Linked DNA regions of Homo sapiens. The protein of the gene in region 4 interacts with the protein of the main gene of each other region in a pairwise test. Each region holds a gene or a part of one and is shown on either strand. Other genes may lie near its edges.

What was found.
Region 1: the proteins of CERK (region 4) and PLEKHF2 interact in binary tests that used the Homo sapiens proteins (3 or more experiments, as listed by UniProt).
Region 2: the proteins of CERK (region 4) and TRIM42 interact in binary tests that used the Homo sapiens proteins (3 or more experiments, as listed by UniProt).
Region 3: the proteins of CERK (region 4) and KRT34 interact in binary tests that used the Homo sapiens proteins (3 or more experiments, as listed by UniProt).

What each region holds. Positions count from the first base shown.
Region 1 is NC_000008.11:95,128,785-95,136,784, forward strand, and holds the start of PLEKHF2 (pleckstrin homology domain-containing family F member 2), read left to right. Parts: upstream 1-5,000; 5' UTR 5,001-5,246; intron 5,247-8,000. UniProt on the Homo sapiens protein: May play a role in early endosome fusion upstream of RAB5, hence regulating receptor trafficking and fluid-phase transport. Enhances cellular sensitivity to TNF-induced apoptosis.
Region 2 is NC_000003.12:140,674,142-140,681,082, forward strand, and holds the start of TRIM42 (tripartite motif-containing protein 42), read left to right. Parts: upstream 1-3,922; 5' UTR 3,923-4,088; coding exon 4,089-4,429; intron 4,430-6,941.
Region 3 is NC_000017.11:41,379,299-41,387,268, reverse strand, and holds the start of KRT34 (keratin, type I cuticular Ha4), read left to right. Parts: upstream 1-4,962; 5' UTR 4,963-5,018; coding exon of another isoform or gene 5,019-5,022; coding exon 5,023-5,370; intron 5,371-5,473; coding exon 5,474-5,556; intron 5,557-6,056; coding exon 6,057-6,213; intron 6,214-7,537; coding exon 7,538-7,699; intron 7,700-7,790; coding exon 7,791-7,916; intron 7,917-7,970.
Region 4 is NC_000022.11:46,693,231-46,700,252, reverse strand, and holds part of CERK (ceramide kinase), read left to right. Parts: intron 1-787; coding exon 788-940; intron 941-4,937; coding exon 4,938-5,043; intron 5,044-6,749; coding exon 6,750-6,826; intron 6,827-7,022. UniProt on the Homo sapiens protein: Catalyzes specifically the phosphorylation of ceramide to form ceramide 1-phosphate.

The DNA.
Region 1 (8,000 bases), on a different chromosome or scaffold from region 4:
TAATATTTTCCCAGAAGTTCAGGAAAATAGCCCCTTAGGATTTGAGCTGCATGTTCAAATTTATACTGGTATCTTAGTCCATTTGGGCTGCTATAACAAAATGTCTTAGACTGGGTAATTTATAAACAATAGAAATGTATTGCTCACAGTTCTGGAGGCTGGGAAATCCAAGATCAATGAACCAGAACAAATGGTGTCTGCTGAAGGCCTGTTCCTTACAGATGGCACATTTCTCACTGTGTTCTCATGTGGTGGAAGGGCACACAGGCTCTCTCAGGTCTCTTCTCTAAGGGCACTAATCCCATTCACAAGAGCTCTATCTTTATGAACTAATCACATCCCAAAGGCCCACCTCTTAAAACCAACCCATTGGTGATTATATTTCAGCACATGAATTTTAGAGGGACACAAACATTCAGAACATAGCAACTGGAGAATGACGGGTTCTGCTTTTCTTCTGCCTTTCAATCCTTATACATGTGTCTCCACTGGCAGAATTTAACCTGGAAACATTTAGAGTAAGTTCTCTGGAAAATAGAGTGCTAGGCTGTCTCCCTATAGGTACAGAAGAGAATGTAGAAGGGGGTGGCAATCATGCCGAGTTGACAACTGACAAGCTGGCACATGCTCCTGTTGGGGCCTATGGGTAGAAAGGAGAGGACAATGAGGTCCCTGGCCTCATGCAGGTTTCAGACTCCAGGGAGACCTGTAAGTTCTGTGAGGGAAACAAGCAAAGGGCTGTGACTGAGAGTAACTGAGGACATAGTGTCCAGGAAAGGCCTCTCAGAGGACTGAAACATGACAAGGAGCCGCAGCTATGTGAAGGGCAGAGACTGTGGAGTTGTGACTATCCAGGTAGAGAGGTGTCCAGGGCAGTGAGCGCCACAGCAGCTCTTTTGAGCTTGATTTATTTTAGGAAATGATGGAAGGTCAATGTGAATGGCAGTTGGTGGAGTGTAGCATCATTTTAAGTTGGAGGGGATGGCAGGGGCTGGATTGTGCTGGGTCTTGTAGAACCAGGTGATGAGCTGGTATTTCGTACTAAGTGAAAGAGAAACGCTCTTATTCTATGTGGCATGTCTGGGCAAATTAGATTTCCATCTTGTTGGAAAATTGTTGTAAGATAATTTTGTTAGAATGAGTCATTTCACTAAAATCTGCCAGAAAATATTCATAATAAATATTAAATTTCCAGTGCCTCCAATGTGAATGCACTCTCCCATAGGGTTGTTCTACCACAACTGTACAATTCTATATGGCAGCCTCTGTGGGGAGCCATGGAAATGTTTCTTCAGGGAGTGACACAATCCTGTGTGGCTCCTGTGTGGAGGGGCCAGGAGGAGAGGAGAACAGATGAGATAAAGTGTTTTGAAGGTAGATCCTACAATATTTTGGAGATAAAGAGATTGGATGGAGGACATGGGAAAAAGGATGACAGGATGATGGCTCATCAGGTTTGTGGATGGCAGTGCCGTTTTACTGAGATGGGCAAAACTGGGAGAAGACCAGCCTTTAAAAGTGGAGGGGACAAAGAAATCAAGGAGTAATTAAAATCCAGGTATTTGCCATCCTATCATTTCTTGAATGTTCTATTTTCAATTAAAACTTAACCAAACTATTCACTTTTACAAGATACACGTTAGATTCAAGAACAATAACGTGATCTTTTTTGCCTTTCAGGATTAAAGAATCGGGTTAGTCAGTCTTGGTGGTGCATGCCTGTAATCCCAGTTACTGAAGAGGCTGAGAGGGAGGATCCCTTGAGCCCAGGAGTTTGAATCCAGCATGGGCAGCAAAGCAAGACCCAATCTCTTATTTTCAAATGTAAAAAATTAAAAAAACAAATTGGGGAAATATAAACTCAAGTTTTACTAATCTTTTCAAGTTCCTCTATGTTTTAACAATGTGTCATACACTTTACACATTATCTTATTTCCTCCATTCAGCAGTTTATGAGGAAGTTCCTTTTTTTTTCTTTCTTTTTTTTTTTTTTTTTAAGAGAAAGGGTCTCCTTCCATCATTCAGGCTGGAGTGCAGTGGCTGGATCATTGTTCACTGCACTGCACTGCAGCCTTGACCTCCTGGGCTCAAGGAATCCTTCCACATCAGCCTCCTGAGGAGATGGGACTCCAAGTGCCCAGCTAATTTAAAAATTGTTTTGTAGAGACACAGTCTCACTATGTTCCCCAGGCTGGTCTTGAACTCCTGGCTTCAAGCAATCCTCCTGTCTCGACCTCCCAAAGTGCTGGGATTATAGGCCGGGTGTGGTGGTTTACACCTGTAATCCCAACACCTTGGGAGGCTGAAGCAGGTGGATCACTTGAGGTCAGGAGTTTGAGACCAGCCTGGCTAACATGGTGAAAACTCGTCTCTACTAAAAAGAAAATACAAAACATATCCAGGCATGATGGCACATGCCTGTAATCCCAGCTACTTGGGAGGCTGAGGCAGAAGAATCACTTGAACCTGGGAGGTGGAGGTTGCAGTGAGCCAAGATCACGCCACTATATTCCAGTCTGGGCCACAGAGTGAGACTCTTGTCTCAAAAAAAAAAAAAAAAAATTGGGCGGGTGGGAGGATGGGGCTGGGCGTGAGCCACGTGTCTGGCCAGTAATTCCTATTTTTATCTTCATTTTACGGTTGAGATGTGAGGCTCAAAGAGCTGTCTTATCACTTGACTTGAACAGGGTACCACAATTACAGGTTCGGGTAGGAGTGAATCTTACTTCCTTTCAGTGACTTTTGAGTTCCCTGCTTTGTTCCAGATTGGTCAGTGCTATCCAATAGAACTTCTGCAATGATGGAAATGTTTTATATGTGCACTGTCCAATAGTCATGTGGCTATTAAGCACTTGAAATGTGGTCAGTGTGACTGAGAAACTAAATTTTTAATTTAAATAAATTTACATTTAATTAAGACATGTGGTTAGTGGCTACTGTATTTGTTAGCACAGATCTAAATCAACGGTCTCCAAACTGGGGTGCACGCAGCCCAGGGAGGGCATAGACTATGAAGAGTACAGAAAGAAAACATACATATATATATTTAAAATCATTATTTCTGATTTTTTTGTGTGTGTATGTTGTTTTTTAATGTACCTAACATACTAGGTATATTATAATAGGTGTATGTGTGTATATAAATACACACTATATATATCATACATATAATTCTGTGTGTATGTGTGACTGGGTCTTGCTATGCTGCCCAGGCTGGATTCAAACTCCTGGCCTCAAGTGATCCTCCAGCCTCAGCCTCCTGAGTAGCTGGGTATATTACATATGTAACAACTTTTATTTCACACTTACGTAGCACTATATAAATGTGTATATTATGTATGTAATAATTTTATTTCACACTTGTAAAGCACTGTGTGCCAGGTATATGCTTTACATATATTAATTCATTTCATCTGCATAATGACTCTGTGATATACTTTTATTATCTCCATTTTACAAGTGAAAAAACCAAAGTTATCTTTGGATGTGCCAAGGTTGTTAGAGACAAAGCCAATGTTTGATTACAGTCATTCTGGCTTCTATCTATGCACTTTACTTAAGCTAAATAAGTACATGGGAAGTGAGGAGGGCAAACATTTTTACTAATGTGAGTGACCAAAAATATTTGATAACTAATGCTCTAGGCTTGACCTTAGACAACCAGTCAGACATAGCAATTCCTACTTTCAAAATTTAAAAGGATTTTAGGCATTATTTAGTCCTGCCTTTTCCCCACTGATAGATATTGCTGTGCACGTAGAGGTGAATGAGGTAGAGTGATGGTACGGACAAGCGTCCTGGTGACATCTGTACTCATCTAGAGACAACTCTAACACACGAAAGATTGTGTGTGTGTGATCATACAATTTTCCCCATTTAAAAAAAGTTCATCTTTGCCAATTTTGTTCTAATTATTAATTTAAAAAAAGACTTGTTTGTTTCAGAGACAAACTCTATTGAAATAGGGGAGGATAGGAGGCAACAAGCCTGGAGGAGGAAGATCCCAGGTGGAAGAGCAGGGCGGAACCCAAGTCTGCTCTCATCCCTAGGTGCTCATCCACGTGCAGCTTGGCTGGTAGTGACTCTAATTCAACAGCAATCAAACACAGGTTAAAACAACTTACTGAAGTAATAGATGAATAAGAAATATAAAATTTACCAAAACCCAATTTCCTCCTACACACCACACACACTTTGTTTAAAATAAGTATGCTGTTCTCCCTACTTCGCCCCCATCCCTAGTCTACCCTAAGCAACTTCGTTACCTCTCTACGAACCCATCAGAGCGCTTAGCTATCAGATCAATTAGGGCACATTTAACCTTATATACTATGCAATAATTACAGTTTCTAGGTATGTGAAGTAGGCTGATGGGGTTTTGTGTCGTCAAAGTTTTGGGAAGACCAGAATTCTAAAGTATGCATTTAAAAGAAAGGGCTGGGTGGAGCACGTAGGGTATGTGTGTGTCGCCGCAGTTCCCTTGGTTTCAAGAGGAGGGATTTTAGGTAAAGCAAAGGGAAAGTGTGACGGAAAGGATTGCTGTGCTAAATGGGAGCAGCAAATGCCAGTACCGATGCCTTTGGGCATTTAGATCCAAAGCCTGCCTTTCTCGTTCTTCAGTTCCCCGGGGAGGCCTGTTGTGGGTGGGGAGGTGTCTTCCTTCTATTATTCCAGTCTCCCTAAGAACTTCGTAGACAGTTGAGCAATACTTTCTAAGGGCTGGTCGGAGTCAGGAAAGTCAGGTAAGGCGCCTCACGTGCACCTCAACGCGTCGCGGGAGCGCGTCCCGACCTCACACATGGACAAGCTCCGCCCGCGGCCGGCCTGAGTGGGTGTGGCCTCCGCCAAAGGCCCCGCCCCTAGAGCGCGTCGCGAGGGGCGCGAGGGGCGGGGCGAGGGAACTGGCAAGAAAGGGCGGGGAGCGAGGGGTGTGGGTGTGCTCGTGCCCGCGCGCTCGCGCCCGGAGTGTGGACGGGGGCGCGCCCGTGCGCGCGCAGGGGAGAGGCCAGCCCAGGCAGCCGTTGTCGGGTTCGACTGGAGGGGCGGGGGAGTCACCTGCGAGCGGCTGCGCTGGCGGCCAGCCCGCCCACCGCGTCTGGATCGCGCCGGCTGCGCGGGGCTGCGGACAGCACACACCCTGGAAGGCCCCGGCGGGGAACGGGCAGAGTCCGCGCCCTGCGTCCGCGACCAGGAGGATCGGACCTTCGCCTTCGCTGTCGCCGCCGCCGCCGCCCGCGGCCGTCGGGGTAGGTGAAGCCCGGGTGGGTGGTCCGCCGGCTCCTGACGGGCCGGGAGGGGAGACGCGAAACTTTCCGGGCGCTTCCTCCCGCGGTCCCGGAGCCGTCGCAGCGCCGGGAGGTGTCGTCGTCGCGGGCGGTGGCGGCCGACGCCATGTTGGGGTCTGTGAGAAACGGGGCGCTCCCGGCCGCTCCCCTCGCGCCGGGGCCGGCCCGCGGGCCAGTTGCCGCCGCCGTCCCGCCAGCCCGGGAGCGAGCCGCGCCCGCCCGTAGGACGCCGCCGCCGCCGCGGGGGGACGGGGGCCGCCGGGTAGGGTCCGGTCCACGGGTCTGCGGGGCGGGGGCCGGCGGACGCGGGAAGGAGCCCCGAGGCCGGGCGAGAAGTTGTGGGGCCTGAGGACGGGGGTCCTGGACACGGCCGGGGGCGTCTCAGGGTCGCGACAAATTTCTGGCCGAAAAGTTTGCAGGGTCTGCGTGTCGGGGACCTTATGACCTGAACTACATATTTGTATGTCACTTGGGAGACGAAAATGGCCCCGCAGAACTTGCTCTGATAGAAGCGATGGTTTATTTATTTGGAGCCTTTTCAAGTTTTATGATCCTTTGACGAATTTATTTTTCTTTTTAAAAATGTGATTGAAGGCCGAGAGCGCGCTGCCGGTGTTGCTTGAATAGCCTTGTGTGCTCTCCGTACATTCCAGCAATAACTTGAGTGTGCGGTGGAAGTGGGTATGAAGGTTACAGACACCTAAGCCCTCCTCGGTAATTCATAGACTCACAAAACGCGTTGTTGATAAATGCCTTCTTTGTCGTGTTGTGTAGTACGTTGCTGAAGAGACTCATTAAAGAAAGATTTAGACAGAAACTTTGAGAGTCTTAAAGGCATGTGTTCTCTTAAGAATAAGAAGTGATCTTGACAGTTTGAAGTTTTTTTCCCCTCCCTTTAGTTTCTTAAGGGTGAATGCCTACCGCGTTTTGAGCATTTACTTTTTTTAAATACTCTGGCAGCTCGTGGGGTCTTCACGTTAATTCAGTATTAACGAAGGCTTCATTATAATCTCTTTGGGTCCCGACCACACGGGGAATGAATGGTATTAAGCTATTTATTTGGAAAGCACACGTAATCGGCCTCTAAATAAAACTAGTATAGTGACTAAGCTTCAGAAGAAAATATTCAGCCTCAGTAAATGAATCTAAATGATTTTTAAATAAAGACATCTTGCTTTAAAATTCTGTTAAATGAACTGAAAAGGCTCTTAAACACAAATACAGTAAGCCCTAAAACCCCAAATTCTTGGAGAATTTTACTTTTTAGATCTAAAAATACAGCTTCTGCTCATATTTGATTGTCAATTTCTTTTTCCTTTTTTCTCTTTTTCCTTCCTTCCTTTTCCTTTTCCTAGACAGGGTCTCTGTCTGTCGCCCAGGCTGGAGTGCAGTGGTGTCATCTCCGCTCACTGCAGCCTCAAACTCCCGGGGCCCAGGTGATCCACCTCGGCCTCCTGAGTAGTTAGGACTACAGGAGCGCATCACCACACCTGGCTAATTTTTGTTTGAATTTTGTGGAGAGAAGGTTTTGCCATGTTGCTCAGGCTGTATTGCCAATTTCTGTTGTTCTTAAAAATTCTTTTAGTTTTGCTTCATTGTCAAGTAAATGGCATTATAACATTTTTTATTTAGAAATGAAATTAACTAATTTCACAAATGTAGCAGCCAAACTGGTATTTAACTGAGATCTTATGACTCTGAAGCCTTTTCATTTTTCCTGTAGCATAACTTTGTAGGATACATAACTCAGTCTTCTGGAGCAATCTGTCCATCTCGTTTGCTCTTATCACTGCTCTGACTTGAATTTAGTTCTTCAGTATAAATACTTATTTCCCAGCGAGCTGATTTACAGGTGATCCTTGTGATGAAATTTTTTCCTTAAAAATACTTAAGCCTATACTCTTTGAAGCCTTTTCTGCTCTGTTCTCTCATTCCACTCCCTTGCCCTCTCCAGAAATCAATTAATTTCTCCCATGGTATTACTGTAAATATCGCATAGATTCTGTCATGACATCTCCTTGACAGCAGGCAACACATCGGGTCTGATTTGCCTCTTCATTCCCTGCATGCCAAGAACATAGCAGATGCTCAGGAAAGGTTTGAATGGATGAGTACACGTATGTTTGTTCCTTGTAAATATGCTTCATGAATTTCTTTTGAAATTGTAAATTCCATGAGCATCATAGTTAAATCTTCTTTGTAGTCTTTTTCCCAATACATGCCATCAACTCCATTAAATCCACAGATTGGTTTTTATTATATATACACACACACACACACACACACACACACACACACACACACATGTTTTGTTGTTGTTTTGTTGAGAATTTAACTTAGTACCTGAGTGAATTTTCGCCTGGGGGTACAGAACTTGAATATTTATGAAATTTCTAAGTAGATAATGGATTAAAGTATAATTACTGATGTATGAGAGAGAAGCCATGGATCATCAAAAGGATTATAATCATAATTTTAAGTGTGATTGAATGTATTTGAACTTGATGGAAATATTGTTAATGCTTGAAAAATTTAAAGGTCATATTTATACATTTAAGCTCTTGGAACAAATCTCATTATAGCTCTATCAATTATTGTTTTGCCGGAATTGTCTTAGAATTTTTAGAATGCCCTGCTTAATAGAAAGTATATGAAAAATTTTTTTGTTGTTGTTTATCTTTGATGAACCAGCTTTGTACATGAGCTGCCTGCTTA
Region 2 (6,941 bases), on a different chromosome or scaffold from region 4:
TATACCCAGTAATGGGATTGCTGGGTCAAATGGTATTCCTAGTTCTAGATCCCTGAGGAATCACCACACTGACTTCCACAATGGTTGAACTAGTTTACAGTCCCACCAACAGTGTAAAAGTGTTCCTATTTCTCCACATCCTCTCCAGCACCTGTTGTTTCCTGACTTTTTAATGATCACCATTCTAACTGGTGAGAGATGGTATCTCATTGTGGTTTTGATTTGCATTTAAGAGAAACCAATTTTTCTACAAATTAATTTGAGTGCCATTTTGTTCCTACCAGGAACTTGATGGGAATCACAGGTTCCTGTATATTTATAAACCGTATATTTACTTCAGAATAATAAATCATATTGTCTTAGTCTGTTAAAAAATTTCTCAACAGAATACTAGCAATCCAAATCCAACAAAATATAAAATTACATCATTATGAAATGGGATTTATGTCAGGAACAGAAAATTGACTCAACATATGAAAATCAAATAATTAATTTGATTATTAAATTGACTCAGCATATGAAAATCAAATAATACAACTGAATCTGATAAAAGGACATCTGTAAATAACCGACAGCGAATGCCATAGTTAATGTTGAAAAACTAAAATTTTTTCCCTTAAGATTAGGAACAACACAAGGATGTCCACTCTTGCCAATTCTATTTAACATTGTACTTGAAGATCTAACCAGGGAAATTAGGCAAGGAAAATAAAAAAGGGCCATCTAAATTAGAAAGGAAAAACTGAAAATATCTTTATTCACAGATAACACAAAGTTATATATATAAACCCTTTAAAATAAATTTTAAAAATAGAGCTAATAGTGATTTCAGCAAGGTTGCAAGATATACACAGAAGTCAATATAAATGGCCCTATTAAAAATCAGTTGTATTTCTACACACTAACAATGAACAATCCAAATATAAAGAAAATCAATTTTATTTACAGTAGCATCAAAAGAATGAAATGCTTAGGAATAAATTTAACCATATAAGTGCAAGACCTGTACAATGGAAACTACAAAATATTGTTGAAAGAAATTAAAGGTGACCTAAATAAATAGTGAAATATTCTGTGTTCGTGGATCAGGAAACTTAACATGGCAATTCTCCCCAAATTTATCCACAGACTTAATGCAATAGCTATCAAAATTCTAGTGGACTTTTGCACAAAAAGTAGTAGTGCTGATCCTAAAATTTATATGAAAATACAAGATAATGTTAAAACAGAAACAAAAGTGGAGTACTCACACTTTCCAATTTCAAAACATACTACACAGCTGCAGTAATCAAGATGGTGTGGCTAGCACAAGGATAGACATATAGATCAAAGAAATAGCATTCAGAGTCCAGTAATAAATCATATATCTATGGTGAGTTGATTTTCAACAAGGGTTTCAAGACTACTCAATGGGAAACAATAGTCTTTTCAACAAATGTTGCTATGGCAATTGGATATTCACATGCAACAGAATGAAATTGGGCCCCTAACTCCCACCAAATACAAAAACAATTCAAAATAATTCAAATACCTCAGTGTAAGAGCTCAAACTATAAAGCTATTTATTATAGGATTACATAGGTGTAAATCTTCATGGCCTTGGATTGGGCAGTGGTTTCTTAAATGACACCAAATGGGCAAGCTACAAAAAAAATAGAGATAAATTTGACTTCATCAAAATTAAAACCTTTTGTGCTTCAAAGGACACCATTTAAAAATGTAAAGACAACCATAGAATGGAGAAAATAGATGCAAATCATATCTGGTTAGGGTCTAGTATCTAGCTAATACAAAGAGCTCTGACAACTCAACAATAAAAAGATATTAACTCCATTTTTAAATGGGCAAAAGATTTAAATAGACATTTCTCTAAAGAAGGCATACAAATGTCCTATAAGGACATGAAAAGATTCTCAACATCACTAGCCATCAGGGAAATCCAAATGTAAATCACAAAGAGATCCTACTTTATACCTACTATAATAGCTATAATCAGAAGAAAAAAAAGACAAGAAGTTTGGAAAACGATGTGGAGAAATGGTAATTCTCATACATTGCTGGTGGGAATGTAAAATTGTGCAGTCACTTTGAAAAACAGCTTGGCATTTCCTCAAAAAGTTAAACATAGGGTTACCATATGATCCCACACCTAGGAACCTACCCAAAAGAACTGGAAACATATTTCTACAAAAATGCTCACACAAAAAAAATGTATACACAAATGCTCACAGAAACATTTAAACATTTAACAGCTAAAACGTGAAAACAATCTAAATGTCCATTAACTGACAATGAATACAATGTGGTATATCCATGTGAAATTATTCAGCCATAAAAAAATACTGATACATGCTATAACACAGATAAACCTTGAAAACATTATACTAAATTAAAGCCAGACACAAAAGCCACACATTATATGATAGCATTTATATGAAATCTCCAGAATAGACAAATCCATAAATACAGAAAAGTAGAGTAACTGCTAAGGGCTGAGGGAAAGGAGGAACAGGGAGAGACTGCTAATGAGTGTTTTACGGGGGTGATGAAAATATTTTGGAATTAGATAATGGTGAGAGTTGCACAATTTTATGAATATACTGAAAACCATTTAATTGTTTACTCTAAAATGGTGACTTTAATGGTAAGTGAATTACATATTAATAAGTTTTTAATAAGACCTTATAGAAACCAATAGTGAAAATGTATCATAAATCTGGGAATGAAACTCTAACCTATGTGCCTGGAGGATGGAGAGAGAGATTGATAAAACTGAGTTTTGGCAAACGTGAGGAAAAGGAGTTTCACTTTTTTGAATGTTGTATGTTCCTTGCTGGTATTAACTGGCACATTTATTTGAGTAAGAAATTTAGCAGTTTGCCTTAAAAAAAGATAAAGGACATACCCTAAGAGCCGGGATTTTCACTTGTAGAAATCTAATATCAATGTGTGGCTGGCATAGTTGGCACTCAGTGATTTTCTCTATTATAAAGGTGATAACCATAGGGGGAGATACTAAATTATGCAGTAAATTCCTGCAGCTAAACTCAGCTCTCACTTCTGCTTCTTTTTCTAAAAACAAGACAGTATTCATACTATAATGTACTATGACCATGAAATTTCTGTTCTTTTAATCTTTGCAAGCTGCTTAAATGGGAAGGTGAAATTCTTCCCTAAAATATAGGGTCTTTTTTCTAGGAATACTGAGCATATACTAGCAGAACAGTTAAAGATTTAATGTAGAGTTCCAGCCTCTTTTTGGAGTGGGGGTAGGATGGGGAAAAGACAGAAAGCTTGAACCTCACCCAAACACCATGCAGCTACAAAAAACCCAAGAAATATTCAGAGTGACTTAAGTATAAAGCTTCATGAAAATGAGCAGCGACTATGCATTGATTGATAAAATCAATTACTACTGAAAGAAGTTCCTAAGTGAACCTATATATTTTTTTCTTTAACTCTTTCTCTGAATGGTGATATCTCTTTAAATATGGCATTGCTATTATTTGTAAACACTGTCCTTTGTTCAAATAGAATTCTATCAATTCCTCTAACATGTGGAAAACCATGTGAATCTACTTTTCTAATTAACCATACCCAAGCCTTTCAGTCTACGAAGACATAATCTGAAGTCCACTTGTCCAAATTGCAGGCAGAACACCAAACAAGGAGAAATAGCTTCAGAAATCTACTCCATTATCCAAAAGGTGACAAATGACAACTAAACTTCCAGGATGCTCATTGCATCACCACTCCTCTACAGCTGGTTCCATGGAAGCATGGAGTTTCCACCAACATACCAGCTACCACCCACAAGGCCGCATCCTGCTATCTACCTAGCATGGTAGAGAGACAGGGATTGTGACATAAGCAAATACCCTCAGACTGATATATGTAAATGCCAGCCTATGAGCTTCCTGGTAGGGACACCAGCTGTGAAGTCCTCATAACAGCCAACTTCTTGCAACTTTCAAGCTGACGGCCTCAGGAATGGGAGGAAGGACTCCTCCACTGGAGAACTGATAGCAGTATTCTGGTAGAGGAGGCATCAAGAGTCCTGGGAGGCCGGTGGTAATCATGTAGGCACCATGGAAACTGCTATGTGCGTTTGCTGTCCATGTTGTACATGGCAGAGATGTTGTCCTCAGTTATGCTCCTGTCTGTGCTGCAAGTTCATCTTCACCTCAGAGCGGAACTGCACCTGCTTCCCCTGCCCTTACAAAGATGAGCGGAACTGCCAGTTCTGCCACTGCACCTGTTCTGAGAGCCCCAACTGCCATTGGTGTTGCTGCTCTTGGGCCAATGATCCCAACTGTAAGTGCTGCTGCACAGCCAGCAGCAATCTCAACTGCTACTACTATGAGAGCCGCTGCTGCCGCAATACCATCATCACTTTCCACAAGGGCCGCCTCAGGAGCATCCATACCTCGTAAGTGCCAGGCACCAGATGTGGGGCCGCATTGGGTCATGAAAACTAGGGACCACTTGCCAGCTGTGAAGTCTACAGGGCAGGCCAGTGAGCCTCTGAGTTCATTTCTTTATCTAAAAGGAGGAGCCAAGAATTTTGTAGCAATTAATTGTATCCTAAATGGTCACTATGTATGTAGACCATGAGCTCCAAATCTAAGCGCCATTAACTATGTAAATGAGCACTTCACTCTTCTGAACCCCAACTCTCTCATCTGTACAAAACAGTAATAGCTAATACTTAGTGCTTAAGGAACTTGCCAGGCACTTCATGCATGACCCCAGCTAACCCCTCACCCTAAGTCCACTGTTTCCATGAGGAAACTGATCCTTTGAGAAGTTAAGTAGCCCCAGGATCACACAGCTGGAAAGATACAGAGTCAGGATTGGAACCTAAAATTTGGGATCTTAACTTTAAAATGCTGTATTGCAAAACGGAGACAATACCCCCCCCATGATATTGTAGATATAAGGATTAATGTATGTGCTTTGTAATCTGTATGTGATATAAAAATATAAATTGCTCTTTCTCTTCCTATGAACTCTTAATACCTGTAACTTTTAATGGAAAAGAAAGAACTTCTATGGGGCACTTTTGACCCTGCGGACCATATAAATACCCCATACATCCATGAACTCCTACTACCTTCTTTTTCCCATCCAGAAGTCATAGTACTTAGGGTCTCAATTATTCATTTGGAGTGCTAACCCTTCATATCAGGTCCTACATTATCCTCACCTGCTCTACCAAACCAGTCTTTTTATGTCACACATGAGGGGAGTCTGAAGTAGTAAGAGCACACTTCTTAGAAGCGGAAAGATGACAGCACCATAAGATGACAGGATTAGAAGAGGCAGAAAAATGGAAGGCCAGTTTGAAGGCTTTCAAGCCTGGAAAAGCAATTCTGTGAGCAAAGGTTTGGTGAATTCAGGGGAAAGATATTATCCATCTTGCAATTAAACATTTAGTAGATGCTTAACAAACATAGCTCTCCACCCATGACCCTCTCATAGTGTTTGCATAAATAGGAAATCCAGGGATTCTCGATGCAAGTCTAGAAATCCTAAAACATGGAAAATTGTGTCCACACTCCTCTCTCAACTACCTGTTGTTCAGTTGTGCAACAGCAACTGAACCTCTGAGCCCATTTCAACAGGAAAGGGATAAAATTGGTGCTTTAGGAAAATGCCTTAGGCTCAGTAGCTCCCCAACGTTACTGTGCATTGAAGTCACCTGAGGATCTTTTAAAATTACTGATGCCTGATCCCCACCCCCCCAAACATTGATTTTATTGGTCTGGGGTACCATCTGAGCATCTGAATTAATTAGAATCAACCCCCCCACCCCGCTTCAGGTGATTCTAATGTGCAGAATGGCCTGCAGGAGGCTAGGAGGGAAGCCAGGAGATTTGATAGGTGGTACAGTAAGAATCCAGGTGCAAGAACAGGCCTGATTTTGGGAGACAGAGGGGGCTGTGCAGAGGAGCAGAGACAGGATATCTCAGCAAGAAGATAAAAGCGCTGGGCTTGATGACTGTTTTGAAATGGAACCATGGCCACTGAATGCCCCGTCCAAGCCTGAGGCTTTTGGAGGATGGGCAGGGATGCTACCACAAGTGTTAGGAGGTCGGCTCTGGGTGCTTTTCTTCAATCTGGCCTCTCTCCTGGCTTCTGACCCTCTGCCTCCCCTGCTTCTCATCACCACCTTCTGCTCAGCACCTTACTTGTCCTGCCTCACTCTGGTCTCATTCATCCCTCTCCATCTTAATCTTTTTGTCACTTCCTTTTTCACCCCTAACACAGCTCCCTAGGCCATTAATACCTGTCTCTTAGCCCTGAGACCTCTTTCTCATCCTCCAACACCTCCCTCCCCCACTTCTTCTTTCTTTTTTGTGAAAATGCTAGTTCATGAGCTTCCTAGTAGAGATACCTCCTGTGAAGGCCTCATAACAGCCTCTCTTTATATTATACCTTGATTCTCCAGGCCTTACTTTTTTAAGCAAACTAAAGTCCATCCAGGCACTACATGGACAATTAACCTGTACCACCAGGTGATCCCTTCAGGACCCATGCAGGAATCTGGGAAAGCAGAGAGGAAATAGAGGTGAGAACATCGAGGCCAGCATGCCTAGAGCTCCCAGATCCCTAAGGGACAAATTTTCCAGGTGCCTTAATATACACAGGGAGCATTCTCTGTCACCACAGGGCCACTCCATTCCAATATACTTGGGAAGCACCTGTGACTGTCAGGACTCAGACATAGGCTCCTGGCCAAGGGAGCAGGGAAGACAGGGACACATAAGGAATGCAAGAAGACAAAAGCAAAAAGGAACACAGCCGCAATGTCGAGATTAGTATCCAAATATTATTATGCAAACAGAGGAGATAGCAATAGCAGCAAATTGTGTGCCTTTTACACCTCCATTCCCACAGCTATTTCATTTATTTTTATACACTGCATTTGCTGATTTTAA
Region 3 (7,970 bases), on a different chromosome or scaffold from region 4:
TGGGCATAATGGCTCATGCTTGTAATCCCAGCACTTTGGGAGGCCGAGGTGGGTAGATCACTTGAGGTCAGGAGTTTGAGACCAGCCTGGCCAACAGGGCAAAACCCCATCTCTACTAAAAATATAAAAATTGGCTGGGCACAGTGGTGCGCAACTGTAATCCCAGCTACTCAGGAGGCTGAGGCATGAGAAATGCTTGAACCCAGGAGGTGGAGGTTGCAGTGAGCCGAAATCATGCCACTGCACTCCATCCTGGGCAACACAGCGAGACTCTGTCTCAACAAAACAAAACAAAAACAAAATAACCATAATTAAAGATGCTCTGCAAGGCCAGAAGAACAATACACAAAGTGAGAATTTTCAACAAAAAGGCAGAAAATACAAAAAGTACCAAACAGAAATCATGCTGCTGAAAAATACAATAACTGAATTGAAAAATTCAATAGAGGGATTCAATAGCACACTAAATCAAGCAGGAGATAGGATCAGTGAACTCAAAGTCAGGCCATTGGAAATTATCCAGAGGAACAAAAAGAAAAAAGAATAAAAAAGAGTAAAGAAAGCTTAAGAGATGTATGGGACATCATCAGGCAGACCAACATTCACATTAGGAAGATCCAGAAGGAGAAGAGAGAGAGAAAGTTTAGAAAACTTATTAAAAAAAATAATGGCTCAAAACTCCTGAAACCTGAGAAAGAACATTGACATCCAGATCCAGGAAGCCCAGTGTATCCCAAATAAGATGTTCAGATAAATCAAAGTGATACACATTATAATTGAATTGTCAGAAGTCAAAGACAAATAGGGAATTTTGAAAGCAGCAAGAGAAAAGTGACATCATGTACAAGGGAACCTCCATAAGGTAATTAATACATTTCTTAGCAGAAACTTTGCAGGCCGGAAGGACATGGGATAATATATTTAAAGTGCTGAAAACAAACCAACCAACCAACAAACAAACTGCCAACCAAGAATATCATTCCCAGTACAATTATCCTTCAAAACTGAAGGAGAGATACAGACTTTTATAGATAAACAAAAGCTGAGGTAGTTCATCATCGCTGGACCTGCCTTACAAAAAATGTTAAAGGAAGTTCTTTAAGTTGGAACAAAAGGATGTTAAACAGTAATATAAATGCATGTGAAAGTATAAAACTTGCTGGTAAATGTAAATATACTGATAAATATAGACTACTGTAATACTATAATGGTGGTAGGTAAATCACTCTTTTAATTCTACTATAAAATTTATTTATTTATTTATTTATTTATTTATTTATTTATTTATTTATTTATTTTTGAGACAGAGTTTCACTCTTGTCACCCAGGCTGGTATGCAGTGGTGTGATCTTGGCTCACTGCAACCTCCGCCTCCCGGGTTCAAGCGATTCTCCTGTCTCAGCCTCCTGAGTAGCTGGGATTATAGGTGCCTGCCACCACGCCCAGCTAATATTTATATTTTTAGTACAGACAGAGTTTCTCCATGTTGGCCAGGATGTTCTCGAACTCCTGACCTCAGGTGATCTGCCCTCCTCAGCCTCCAAAAGTGCTGGGATTATAGGTGTGAGCCACCACACTTGGCCCTCTACTATAAAATTTAAAAGATAAAAGTATTAAAAATAACTATAACTATAAAAATAGGTTAATGCATATGCAATATAACAAGATGTAAATAATGACATCAATACATAAAAGATGTGTGTGGGAGAAGCAAAAGAGTAGTTTTTGTATGCAGTGAAAGTTATCAGCTGAAAACAGACAGTTATAAGTTGTTTCATATAAGCCCTATGATGATCACAAAAAAATACCTATAGAAGATACACAAAAGAAAAAGAAAAAAGAATAAAAACATATCGATACAAAAATCCATGCAACACAAAGGAAGACAGCAAGATAGGAAAAGAGAGACAAAAGAACTCTGAGAAAGACAAAAGAATTAACAAAATGGCAATATTAGTCTTTCCCTATCAATAATTTATTGAAATGTAAATGAATTAAACTCTCCAATCAAAAGACATGGAGTAGCTGAATGGATTTTCAAAAAACCAACAAGTACTATCTACATACTATCTAGAAGAGACTGACTTTAGATTTAAAGACAATGTATAGGCTGAAAGTGAAGGAATGGGAAAAAAAATATTCCGTACAAATGGTAACCAAAAGACAGCAGGATGGCTGTACTTATATATCAGACAAAATAGTCTTTAAGTCAAAAATTGTCACAAAAGGCAAAGAAGAACATTATATAATAATGAAAAAATTCACCAGGAAGATATAACAATTGCACACATATATGAACCCAACATCAGAGCACCTAATATATATATAACAAACATTGACAGAACCAAAGGGAGAAATGGACAATGCAATAATAGAAGAATTCAGTAACTCACTTTTGATAATGAATAGAACATTCAGATAGAAAATCAACAAGGAAACAACAGATTTGAGCAATACTATAGAACAAATGGACCTAACAAATAACACGTTCTATCCAATGGTAGCAGAATGCATATTCTCCAGTGCATGCGGAACATTGTCCAGGATAGATCATATGTTGGGTCACAAAACAAGTCTTAACGAATTTAAGAGGATTGAAATCATACTAAGTATCTTTTCCTACCACAATGGAATGAAACTAGAAAACTAGAACGGAAATAAGAAAAAAACTGAAAAATACACAAATATGTAGAAATTAAAAAACATTTAAATAATCAATGGGTCAAAGAAGAAATCAAAAAGGAAATTAGAAAATATCTTGAGACAAATGAAAATGAGAACACAACGTATCAAAATTTATGGGATGCAGCAAAAGCAGTACTAAGAGGAAAGTTTTATATATGTATATACATAAACCTATATCTAAACATACACACACGCCTACCATGTACCTACAAAAATTAAAAAATTAAAAAAGATAAAGAACAAACTAAGCTCAAAGTTAGCAGCAGGAAGGATATAATAACACTTTTTGCTCTAAATTTTATTATGATACTTACGATAAAACTTAGAGCAGAAATAAATAAAAATAGAGACTAGAAAAACAATAGCAAAAAATCAATGAAACAGAGTTTTTTTGAAAGACACAGAAAATTTACAAACCTCTAGATAGACTAAGAAAAAAAGAGGAAACACTCAAATAAATAAAATCGAAGATGTGCTTTTCTGCTCCTCTCATGCTGCTTTTGAAATTCAGATGCAGCCTTCTTTAAATGATTTGTATTGTGTTCCACAAATAATCTTTTGGGACTTCTTTCTGAAACATGACTTTGTTTCCCTGCGGAACAAAGGCAAGGTAGAGTGACAGGGAAAAGAAGTGAGGTAGGGAAGGCTATTCTGTGAAGAGTGATTATTGGGCAATAGAGAGGCTCCCTAGGTTATGCAAGAGTCAAAGGGTAACTGGATCCCAGAGGTGATAGAAGCACACTTATCAGAGACAGTGTCTACTTGTAGGGACAACAGAGTAAATCTGCATTCTCATGGGCACTGTGGCTTGTCCTGGAAGCATCTCAGGCTGGCATAGTCATACCTCTAGGAGAGTTAATACTCTAGAAAGAGGAACAAGTCTAGAAATAAGATGATAGAAATTTCCAGAGAATTTGAGAAAAAGCCACCATGGATACAAAGATACCTCTGAGCACCCTTGCTCCAATTTTCGTTTCTTGGTGAGTCTGCAGTATTATGCTTCATATTCATGCTTCAGTGCTGCCATCTGAACTCTCACTGCTCCAGACTGTTTCCAGCATATTTTTTCTTCTAGATATTTCTACTCTTGCTCATCTTTAGAGAGGCTGTTGCTTTAGTACAAGTTGGCAAATTTTTTAATTTTAGGGCTTTGTGGACACTATAGTCTCTGTCACAACTACACAACTCTGCCACTGTAGCACAAAAGCAGCCATATACAATAGCTAAACAAATGGGCATGGCTGTGTTCCATTAAAACTTTATTTACTGCCGGACGCATTGGCTCACGCCTGTAATCCCAGCACTTTGGGAGGCCGAGGCGGGCGGATCACGAGTTCAGGAGTTCAAGAGCAGCCTGGCCAACATGGTGAAACCCCATTTCTGCTAAAAACACAAAAATTAGCCGGGTGTGGTGGCGGGCACCTGTAATCCCAGCTACTCGGGGGGCTGAGGCAGATAATTGCTTGAACCCGGGAGGTGGAGGTTGCAGTGAGCCGAGATCGTGCCACTGCACTCCAGCCTGGGCGACAGAGTGAGACTCTGTCTCAAAAAAAAAAAAACAGAAAACAAACAAACAAAAACTTTATTTACAAAAATTCAGCAGGGTAAACTTGACGTGTGGGCTGCCATTTGCAGATGCCCTCTTTTAGGTATACTCCCATCCATTCCATTGGTTTCCATTTTACTTTCTCATTTCTCAACCATGAACATGCCATTGTTTTCAGTTGCTCCATGTGTTGGCAAGTTCCCTAAACCCCAACGAATAGTAAGGCTCAGGATCATTTCGGCGAATACAGGTTGAGTTTCTGCTATAAAAACAAATTGAATGCTGAAACATGGATGAATGTGGGAGGAAAGAGCTACTTGGAAGAGTAACTCTCAAAGCTCTCTCTCAGAGCTCTCTCTCTGGGGAGAAAGAACAGTGGCGGAAACTCCTGGGTGAGGAATCCCTGATTCCCAAACAACTCCACCCCATGTCCCTGGCTGTCCTCCCCTCTGAGTAATGCAGACAGCCTTTTGGGGCTGTGATGATTCTATCTCCTATGAAGCCATCTGATGAAACTCTGATTTCACCAACCACTAGCACCCAGGAAGAGCCTGGTGTGACATAAGCTGAATGGAATAATTTTATGGGTTGAGGGGGGACTCTTTAGAAGCATCTAACTAGCATATTTTGGAGAAAAATTAGCTGAAGCATTAGGAAAGGAAACTATGCTGTATGCCAAGCCCCCACCCACAATTAATGGTATAAAAGGACTGCAGAGGAAGGAGAGACTCAAACCTGCCCACATCCACCTCCAGCAGCTTACCTGCTTTTCCATTACCTGTTCCAGCACCATGTCTTACAGTTGTTGCCTGCCCAGCCTGGGCTGCCGCACCAGCTGCTCCTCCCGGCCCTGCGTGCCCCCCAGCTGCCACGGCTACACCCTGCCTGGGGCCTGCAACATCCCCGCCAATGTGAGCAACTGCAACTGGTTCTGTGAGGGCTCCTTCAATGGCAGCGAGAAGGAGACTATGCAGTTCCTGAACGACCGCCTGGCCAGCTACCTGGAGAAGGTGCGTCAGCTGGAGCGGGACAACGCGGAGCTGGAGAAACTCATCCAGGAGCGGTCCCAGCAGCAGGAGCCCTTGCTGTGCCCCAGCTACCAGTCCTACTTCAAGACCATTGAGGAGCTCCAGCAGAAGGTGAGGGGGTTGGCCATATGGGGGGCCAGCAGCAGCTGGCTCTCTTTGAACAGTAAGACATTTTCAAGTTCAAGTGTACCTCATGAGAGAAATTTCTTTTCAGATTCTGTGTGCCAAGGCTGAGAATGCCAGGCTGGTGGTGAACATTGACAATGCCAAGCTGGCCTCTGACGACTTCAGAAGCAAGTATGTTGAACTTCAAGGTCCCTATGGTTCTTTCATGGCCCTAGGGACCTACTATTGCCTGGAAGAGAGGAGAAAGCCATTTCTCTCTATTTCTCCTCCTAGGGCTGGTTATGTAAAATTAGTTTCAAATAGGGAACTAGACTCATGTGCTGCCTGCTCTTTGGTCTATACTGGTTTTTTTTGGAAGTGTTTCTTAAACCACAAAATTCAGAGATTGAAATGAATTGTTCTTTGGGAATTGATTTGGTGGTATATTAGCTAACAAAACCGAGAACACAGTGAGAGACTTCATCTCATGTGTGCCTGTGGGCTCCTCGTGGTGTTAGGTGAGTCAGGGAACCTCTTCAGCCTATCCATGGACAGCTTGACTGAAGCATATGGAAGAGAAGAGGCAGAAAACTGTAAGTTCAAGAAGATTCAGGCCAATTCTACCCAAACAACACATGAGAGGGGAAGGTGGTTTTCTTTCCTGACTTATCCTCCCACTCCGACACGTGCAGGTACCAGACGGAGCAGTCCCTGAGGCTGTTGGTGGAGTCGGACATCAACAGCATACGCAGGATCCTGGATGAGCTGACCCTCTGCAAGTCTGACCTGGAGTCCCAGGTGGAGTCCCTGAGGGAGGAGCTGATCTGCTTGAAGAAGAACCATGAGGAGGTATGAAACAAATTCACAAAAGCAGGCCTCAGAACTAAGCTACTAGCACTGGGAATCAGGAGAGGATTACTGTCTGGATCCCTGGTCTGGGACCCTTCTCTGAGGAACTCAAGATGTTCTCAGAGAGTGACGGTGCTACATCCATATCAAGGAGTGGAGTGAGCTGCTCATTCTTCAGCGGCTGGGTGAGGGTTAGGCAGGTGTTGGAATTACTGAGGAGGGACATCATTCATTGAGCCCTGCTCTCTGCTGATCACTGCTAGGTCCTGAATTTGGTGGTGGAGATGGAGGGACAAAAAAGAAATAAGACATGGCCCTTTTCTTAAAAGAGCTCACAGTCTAGTATAGAAAGACAGTCATATAAACACAGTGATATAAACAAGACAGAGTGAAACAAGTACCATATGAGATGTACAAGCAGTATGCTCTAGAAATAATCCAGGCTGCCCAAGAGGAGATAGGGAACTCTTCTCAGATGCAAAGAGGAGGATTCCAGTACTTGGGTGTTTCAGTCTGAGGGAAGAGGTTGAACAAAGACACAGAAGTGGCAGGGCAGGGTGTATCTGGGTATGGCTGGGCATGCAGTACCTCCAAGGGATGAAAGTGAAGATGTGATGGGAAGCGAGGAAGGACTTGCATATGCCAAGGAGTTTAGACTTAGTCTTGTAGAAGGTGTGAGGTTGTTTCCGTTTCTATGGGACAACAATTGACGTGATCCCTGTTGGAGTTTATTGCTATAAAATGTGTGTGTCACTCTTTGGGAATGATCAGAATCTTCCTTTTAGTGCTTTTTTTTTTTTGACGGAGTCATGCTCTGTCACCAGGCTGGAGTGCAGTGGCGTGATCTAGGCTCACTGTAACATCCGACTCCCTGGTTCAAGTGATTCACTTGCCTCAGCCTCCTGAGTAGCTGGGATTACAGGCACATGCCACCACGCCCAGCTAATTTTTGTATTGTTAGTAGAGATGGGGTTTCACCATGTTGGCTAGGATGGTTTCGATCTCCTGACTTCGTGATCCACCTGCCTCTGCCTCCCAAAGTGCTGGGATTACAGGCTTGAGCCACTGTGCCCGGCCCCTTTTAGTGCTTTCTGGGCAGCATCAAGCTCATTTTCCCAGAGCAGGAAGATGGCACATCTTCCATGGGACAGCAATTGATGTGATCCCTGTTGGAGTTTATTGCTATAAAATGTGTGTGTCACTCTTTGGGAATGATCAGAATATTCCTTTTAGTGCTTTTTGGGCAGTATTGTGCTCATTTCCCTGGAGCAGGAAAATGGCAGATCCATTGCCGTAGGTTCATTGTTTCCCTTTTCTCCAACAGGAGGTTAACACCCTGCGCTCCCAGCTTGGAGACCGCCTCAACGTGGAGGTGGACACTGCCCCCACTGTGGACCTGAACCAGGTCCTGAACGAGACCAGGAGTCAGTATGAGGCTCTGGTGGAAATTAACCGCAGGGAAGTGGAGCAATGGTTCGCCACGCAGGTGGGCATCTAAGCACATGGCCACTCAGGACCCGAGGTGCCCCAGGGCCCTGGAGACAGGGTCTGATCCTTTCCCCACTTGGGTGTTTCAGACCGAGGAGCTGAACAAGCAGGTGGTATCCAGCTCAGAGCAGCTGCAGTCCTGCCAGGCGGAGATCATCGAGCTGAGACGCACAGTCAACGCCCTGGAGATCGAGCTGCAGGCCCAGCACAACCTGGTGTGTATTGTTCAGACCTGCTGGTGAGCGATGGGAACTTGGGAGGCAGAGTCC
Region 4 (7,022 bases):
CCCAGCTCATTTTGTATTTTTAGTAGAGACGGGGTTTCACCATGTTGACCAGGCTGGTCTCGAACTCCTGACCTCAGGTGATCCACCCACCTCAGCCTCCCAAAGTGCTGGGGTTACTTACAGGCGCGGGCCACCGCACCTGGCCTATTTTATTTTTTTTGAAACAGAGTCTCACTCTGTGTGTGGCCCAGGCTGGAGTACAGTGGTATGATCTCGGCTCACTGCAACCTCCGCCTCCCGGGTTCAAGCGATTCTCCTGCCTGAGCCTCGCCACTAGCTGGGATTTCAGGCACACGCCACCATGCCTGGCTAATTTTTATATGTTTAGTAGAGACAAGGTTTCACCATTCTGGCCAGCCTGGTCTCAAATTCCTGACCTCAGGTGATCTGCCCGCCTCGGCCTCCCCACGTGCTGGGATTACAGGCGTGAACCACTGCACTCGGCTTGATTTTGTATTTTAAAATGCCATGTACTTTTTCTTCATTCTAAAACCACCGTCCTTTCAGTTAAAGATATTTCATGAGCCTCACGGATACACTCTTGTTCAGTCCCCACAGGATAGCTCCCCGAGCCTGTTTTAGAAATTTGAGTGGAGTTCAGTCATTTGAATAAAAAATATGGCATCCAACACCCCAAGAGAGAGAATCCTTGCACTGAATGCGTTCTGTTTGTTTCACACTTTTTAAAAGTAACTCCCACGTTTGCAAAGTGCTATTGAAGGGGATGGAGTGGATGGGGCGGGGCTGGAGGGGGGCTGCCTTCCCTCACGGCCGTTCTCTCCCACAGGGGACTCGCTGGCCATGGATGTGTCCTCAGTCCACCACAACAGCACACTCCTTCGCTACTCCGTGTCCCTGCTGGGCTACGGCTTCTACGGGGACATCATCAAGGACAGTGAGAAGAAACGGTGGTTGGGTCTTGCCAGATACGACTTTTCAGGTAACTCAGAATAATGCAGACTCGCTCCCCGCTGGTCGTGCCCCGACTGCCTTCACAGATGTTACCTGACTGAATCCACTGAGCACCGTCAGAGGTGGGCCCCCACCTGCTCACAGACGGGAAGCTAAGGGCCTCATGAAATGTGCCGGGGCCAGAACGTGGCAGGGTCTGGACTGGAACCTGGATTGCTCTAAACCAGATCCTGCCCCCTGGACCCAAGCATAAGCCACAGAGTAGACACCATGACGGACGCAGTTCACTCCAGAACCCCAGGTGCTGGAACCCCAAGACGCCAGGCCACCAGCCTCTCACATCTGGTAGGCAGGTGACAGAGGCCACCCCAAACTGTTCAAGTGGAAGTATTAATTGGAAAAAAAATAGTTTTTAAAATATATTTTTTAAAAATTTTTTTGAGACACAGTCTTCCTCCGTCACTCAGGCTGGAGTGCAGTAGCACGATCACGGTTCACTGCAGCCTTGACCTCCCAGGCTCAAGTGATTCTCCCACCTCAGCCTCCCGAGTAGCTGGGACTACAGGCACATGCCACCGTGACCAGCTAATTTTTTTTTTTTTTGTATATTTTTGTAGACAAAGGGTTTTGCCCTGTTGCCCAGGCTGGTCTCAAACTCCTGAGCTCAAGCAATCTGCCCACCTCGGCCTCCCAAAGTGCTGGGATTACAACCATGAGCAACCATGCCTGGCCTGTAAAACAATAGTTTTATAATCACTCTGAGCTTATTAGTCAAAGTGGCAAGAACTTTGTGCAGAAATTCAGCCTGGGATATCTGTGTGGAAGCTCTTCTGTAACTTCAGGCACAGGTATCCTTTACTTCATTCAACAAGGTTGCGTGGTTTTGTTGGGGTTACACCGTAGCTAGCCATACAAGTGAGATACACTCAGCACGTATTTGTTGAGCCCCTGCTCTATGCCGGGCCTGGTTTTTGAGGCAGGGACGTGTCCATGAACAAAACAGGCAAGATCCTGCCTTCCTGCGGCTCGGCCGCAGTGGGCACAGAGGAGGAGGAGTGGGAGCGAATGCCACGCCGCACTCCCTGAAGCCCAAAAGCTTTCATTCTCCACAGTGCTCTTCTCACCCCAGCAGGTGCTCCTGCCCCACTTTATAGCGGAGAAAACAGGCACAAAGAGGTTGCCCGCATCCTGCCTCACTCTTTCTTGAGCCCAGTGGTCCTCAGACTGTGGTGGGCACCTGCATCCTCTGGAGGGCTTGGTAGAACCCAGGCTGCGGGGACCCCCCAGAGCATCCAACACGGCAGGTCTGGGTGGGCTTCGGAACATGCAGGTCCTCCAGGCTCCCGGGGCTGCTGCTGGGGCCTCGGGCCAGGCGGCGGTGACCTGTTACCCGACCACAGAGTTTAGAATGAACCAGAAATGAAGGCTGGTGCCAGTTCAGACACAAGAGTTGCAGTCTGCACACATCAGGCAGTGGGTGCGACGTCACCAGCTTTTAAACGCTGGAAAAGGAGAACTTTAAAAATACATAGAATTGGCCAGGGGCAGTGGCTCACGCCTGTAATCCCAGCACTTTGGGAGGTCAAGGCAGGTGGATCACCTGAGGTCAGGAGTTCAAGACCAGCCTCGCCAACATGGTGAAACCCTGTCTCTACTAAAAATACAAAATAAGTCAGGCATGGTGGTGCACACCTATAGTCACAGCTCCTCGGGGGGCTGAGGCAGGAGAATTGCTTGAACCCGGGAGGCAGAGGCTGCAGTGAGCTGAGATCGTGCCACTGCACTTCAGCCTGGGCAACAGAGCGAGACCTCTGTCTCAAAAAAAAAGAAAAGTAGAATTTCAGCCTGGGCGACATAGGGAGACCCCATCTCCACAGAAATTAAAAACAAAATTAGCCGGGCACCCCAGTTACTCGGGATGCTGAGGCAGGAGGAGCCCTTGAGCACAGAAGGTGGAGGCTGCAGTGAGCAGAGATCAGGCCACTGCACTGCAGCTGGAGCGACAGCCAGACCCTGTCTCAAAAAAAAAAGAAAAGAAAGAAAGAAGAAAATATGTAGACCATGAGGTGTGCCATTCTCGCTGCCCGGTCGACTTTCCCGCCTCTTTACAGTTCGCTTTCAGATAAATCTGTATCAAATTAAATCGAGTAATTCCTGATACTAAAATCTTAACCCTTATGAGAGAAAGAAATAGTGATTTGGCAAACTTTACGAAGCTTGAAAAGATTTAATGAAATTAAAAACTAGTGTGGCTTGAAAATTAAAACCTAAGAAATGGCAAAGTGAGGTATTTATCTAAGGCTTATTAAGAAAGGGAATACCGAGAAAATTAGAGAAGCCGCGAGAATTTTAGGAAGCGGTTTGGGTTGTGCCATTCTCCCGACTGCCCTTTGTTGAGCCCAGTGTGGCTCTGCCTAGAATGCCCCTGGGATGCCCCCTCCCTGTCCCTGCCTGCTGGGGTGGGGTGGTGGGCAGCCCCCCTGCATGCCTGGCCCCCCCCTTTGCCCTCAGCCCATCACCACAGGCAGTGGCTGCAGCTCTGTCCCTCCCACCAGGATGAGAGCCCCGAGGCAGGAGACGCCTTCCGGGTCTCTGGATCCCCATCCTGGCCACAGGGCCTGAGATGCTCTCAGGAAAGCGGGTTTGGGTTCTGTGGCTGTGAGGCAGAAAGCACCCGGTTGTTCTGGAGCAGCACAGAGGGCATGGAAGGAGAATGAGCGTGTGGAAATGACACACTCTGTTGAGACACGTGGAGTTTTAGGTGCCGGTAGGACATCTGGGGCCCATCTAGGGGCAGACAGAAACCGGGACATCAGATGTCGGTGAGGCGCCACCCTGGAGGCTGCGTCTGGGTGATGAGGCAGCTGCCCCCCTGCCCCCTGCACTTGAGAGAGGAGCCGGCTTGGAAGGTTGCTGACCAGTGGGTCGGCCTCCTCCCAGGGCCGTGGACACGACGTCCTTGTGGGACCCCCATGGGAGGAGCAGGGAGAGAGGCCAGAGCCACTCTGCAGGGAGGCGGAGCTGCAGCCACCTGGAAGGGCCCGCCCGCTGAGTGCATTCCAGGCACCTGGCCCATGCCAGGTGCAAGACCCACAGACGGGGCTGTCCTAGGGACAGTCGGGAGCTGACTTTCAGGCACACAGATGTCCTAGGAGCCAGACTGCTCTTGCCGGCAGCTTCCCCCACCCCTGGGCGGTGCACACTTGGCTGTGGGCTTGCCATCTGCGGATGAGGATGTGAGGCCTCTGTGTGTCGGGGGTAAGGTTGTGTGTGACGGCCCTGCAGGCCGTCACTGCCACACCAGATGTCATACAGGGCAGCACCAGCCCCAGCATCAGACACGGAGGAGTGAAGTCGCCCTGAGACTCACAGGACACGGCCTGGCTCCTGGTGTGGCCCACGACACCCTGGGGCCCCTCTCCTGCCTCCTGCCCAGTCCCTGCTGTCCTGCTGGGTGGTGTTTCCCAGACAGCCCGGGTGCCAGGCTGCTGGCAGCCCCGTGGACAGCGCACACGTTTGCCTGGAGGGTGGCCCCAGACTTTGGGTGGCAGCGGCCCTGGCCTCTGTCCTGAGCTGTTCAGGACGTCACAGGGGCTGTGGCTGACCCCAGTGGGGGCCAAGCCCTGAGGCAGGTGGGGGCATCACTGACCCTCATGAAGAGGTGGAGGGGATGACCCTGAGCCACTGGAGCCCACAGGCCACATCATCGAGGCTATGAGGGGTGGCTAATGGCAAAGGCCCCACTTTGCCAGCGTCAAGAGTGGCCATAGCCCTGGCTGTCCCAGCATCACTGGGTGTCAGAAGGCACCAGCACTATGACTAGACGTGCTGTTGTCCTGAGGGAGGGCAGAGACCCTGCCACTGCCTTCAATGGTGACATGGCCTGAAGCAGGCCCGGCCTCTCCCTCCTGCAGACGGTTTAGGCAGATGCGCGCTCAGCGACATTTCTGAAGCTGCCCAGCACAGCATCCTAACCAAGCAATGACCCTTGTGGATGTTTTTTCTTCACTGCACTCTGTTCCCAGGTTTAAAGACCTTCCTCTCCCACCACTGCTATGAAGGGACAGTGTCCTTCCTCCCTGCACAACACACGGTGGGATCTCCAAGGGATAGGAAGCCCTGCCGGGCAGGGTAAGTGCATTGCTTTGTGTGTTTCTCTTGCAAATGACGGGAAATGAAGCAGGACGGTTAGGAAGGTGAATGCAGAAGTATTTTCCAAATGTGGTGGAAGGTGCCGGATGTAGCGTGCCCAGACACACGATGCCTATGATGCCCATGATGGCCTAGGCGTGCATGGGGCTTGCTGTCCCCATCTCTGTCCCCATGGCCTGCGCAGGCAGCTGCTGCTGTGCCAGGGATGAGGACTCTGGGGGAGGGTCCCACACCCACTGTTGGAGTGGGGGCTGAGCACAGGGTCTTTCCCTGCTGGGGTTCCCTTTACCCCCTGCAGGGGCCTGATGGAGGAGAAATGCAGGCAGGAAAGGATGGCAGACACCTTATCAGTGACTGTGCGTGTGCAGGGCACTGGTGGCAGGACCGTTGGTAGAGCTGGCTGAAGTGTGCACTCTCAGCAGCCACCCTCCTGTCCACACCCCTGGCTGAGACCCTCACCCATGTTAGCCCCATGCTCCAAGGCAGGAGCCCACTCTAAGGTTAGCAGAGCCCAGGCCAGCCACGCCTTCAACCCCACAGGAAGGCAGGGACCCTCAGCAAGAAGGCTCGGGCTGGCAACAAGGGCTGGTGCCAGGGGTTGGGGGGCAGAGCCAGGGCAGCTGCCCAGGGAGAGGGGATGCAAAGGGAAAGAGGCGCCCCACCGGGGAGGGGAGGCTGAGTGCAGACAACACAGCTGGAAACGCTGCGCTCTCCCCTTACATTTGGTCCCCCAGTTTGGCCACTGCAGGCTCTGCAATGGTGGCTACGCCACTGAACAAGCAGGGACTCCTTTCACCTGGCATATCTCCGCCCCCACCCCCACACAGTGTATTCAGTAATATGCGACCAGTGTAAATAGAACCTTAAATAAATCTAAACATAGTTGTCCCAGGCCGCATGACCTCCCTAGTGACCATGGAGGGCGCCTGAATGGTCATCCTGTCTCTGCTCTGCCTGGGGCTGAGGACACGGGGCTGTGGAGACAGCTGCGCCTTTGTGAAGGACACTCACGTCCTTTCCTTTTAAGTCATGCAGACTTCAGAACCTCCTTCTAGCTCCTTTCCTTTTTTAAGTGAAGAATTGGAGACCATAAAATCAGAATATGTAGAGGCAGATGCTGTTTGCGTCAGTGCATTAAAGAACTCGGCTGCTGATGAGCGATTTCCATCAGTGCAAACAGTGTCCTGTTTGACAGCGTGAATCCGGCAGCCCCCAAGATCAGAAGGACGTGCTAGACGAATGACTAAGTTCTAAGCTGATGGTTCTGAGTTATTTGCTTGTTATTGACTGTAACAGATAAACCCTGTATGATTTGTTTTCTGAAAGTAAATGAGTCCTCACCCCAGGAGTCCGCTGGGGGAACCAGTGCCTCAGTCATTTCTCCCAGCCAGGCTATGTTAGCTGGAGGGCCAGGCAGAAACCGTCTCCAGGTGGCACCTCAGCGTCCTCATGCTGTGCTTCTCCTCATGTCCAAACCTTTTAGAGAAGGACATGTTGAATGTGTCATTGTAAAAGTAGGTCTCATTCTGAAACCTCTAATTAATATGCCAAAAAATATTTTGTTAAGCCTTTGAAATGGAATTTTTTCGTATGTGAAAAGAATGTAAATACATCTATATGTGCCAAGCATACGCACTGCACCTGCAGCTCCATATTTAAAAGGTGATGATATTCTTGTCTTTCAGATGCTTTGTTTGCAGGCAAAGCAAGCAGCAGCTGGAGGAGGAGCAGAAGAAAGCACTGTATGGTTTGGAAGCTGCGGGTAATTCCTAAAACACAGGCTCAGTGTTGTCACTGTGTGTGCTGGAGTGCGGGTTTCTGTCCTCTCTCAGGGCACTGCCTCTTCTCCCTGCCCACCTGTGCTTTTCCTTTTTCCTGTCTGGCACCAGGCATCCATTTCTTCTTAGCCCCAGGCAGCGTCAGGTCACTGTTACTTGCCGTGTGTGGCTGTGTGGAGC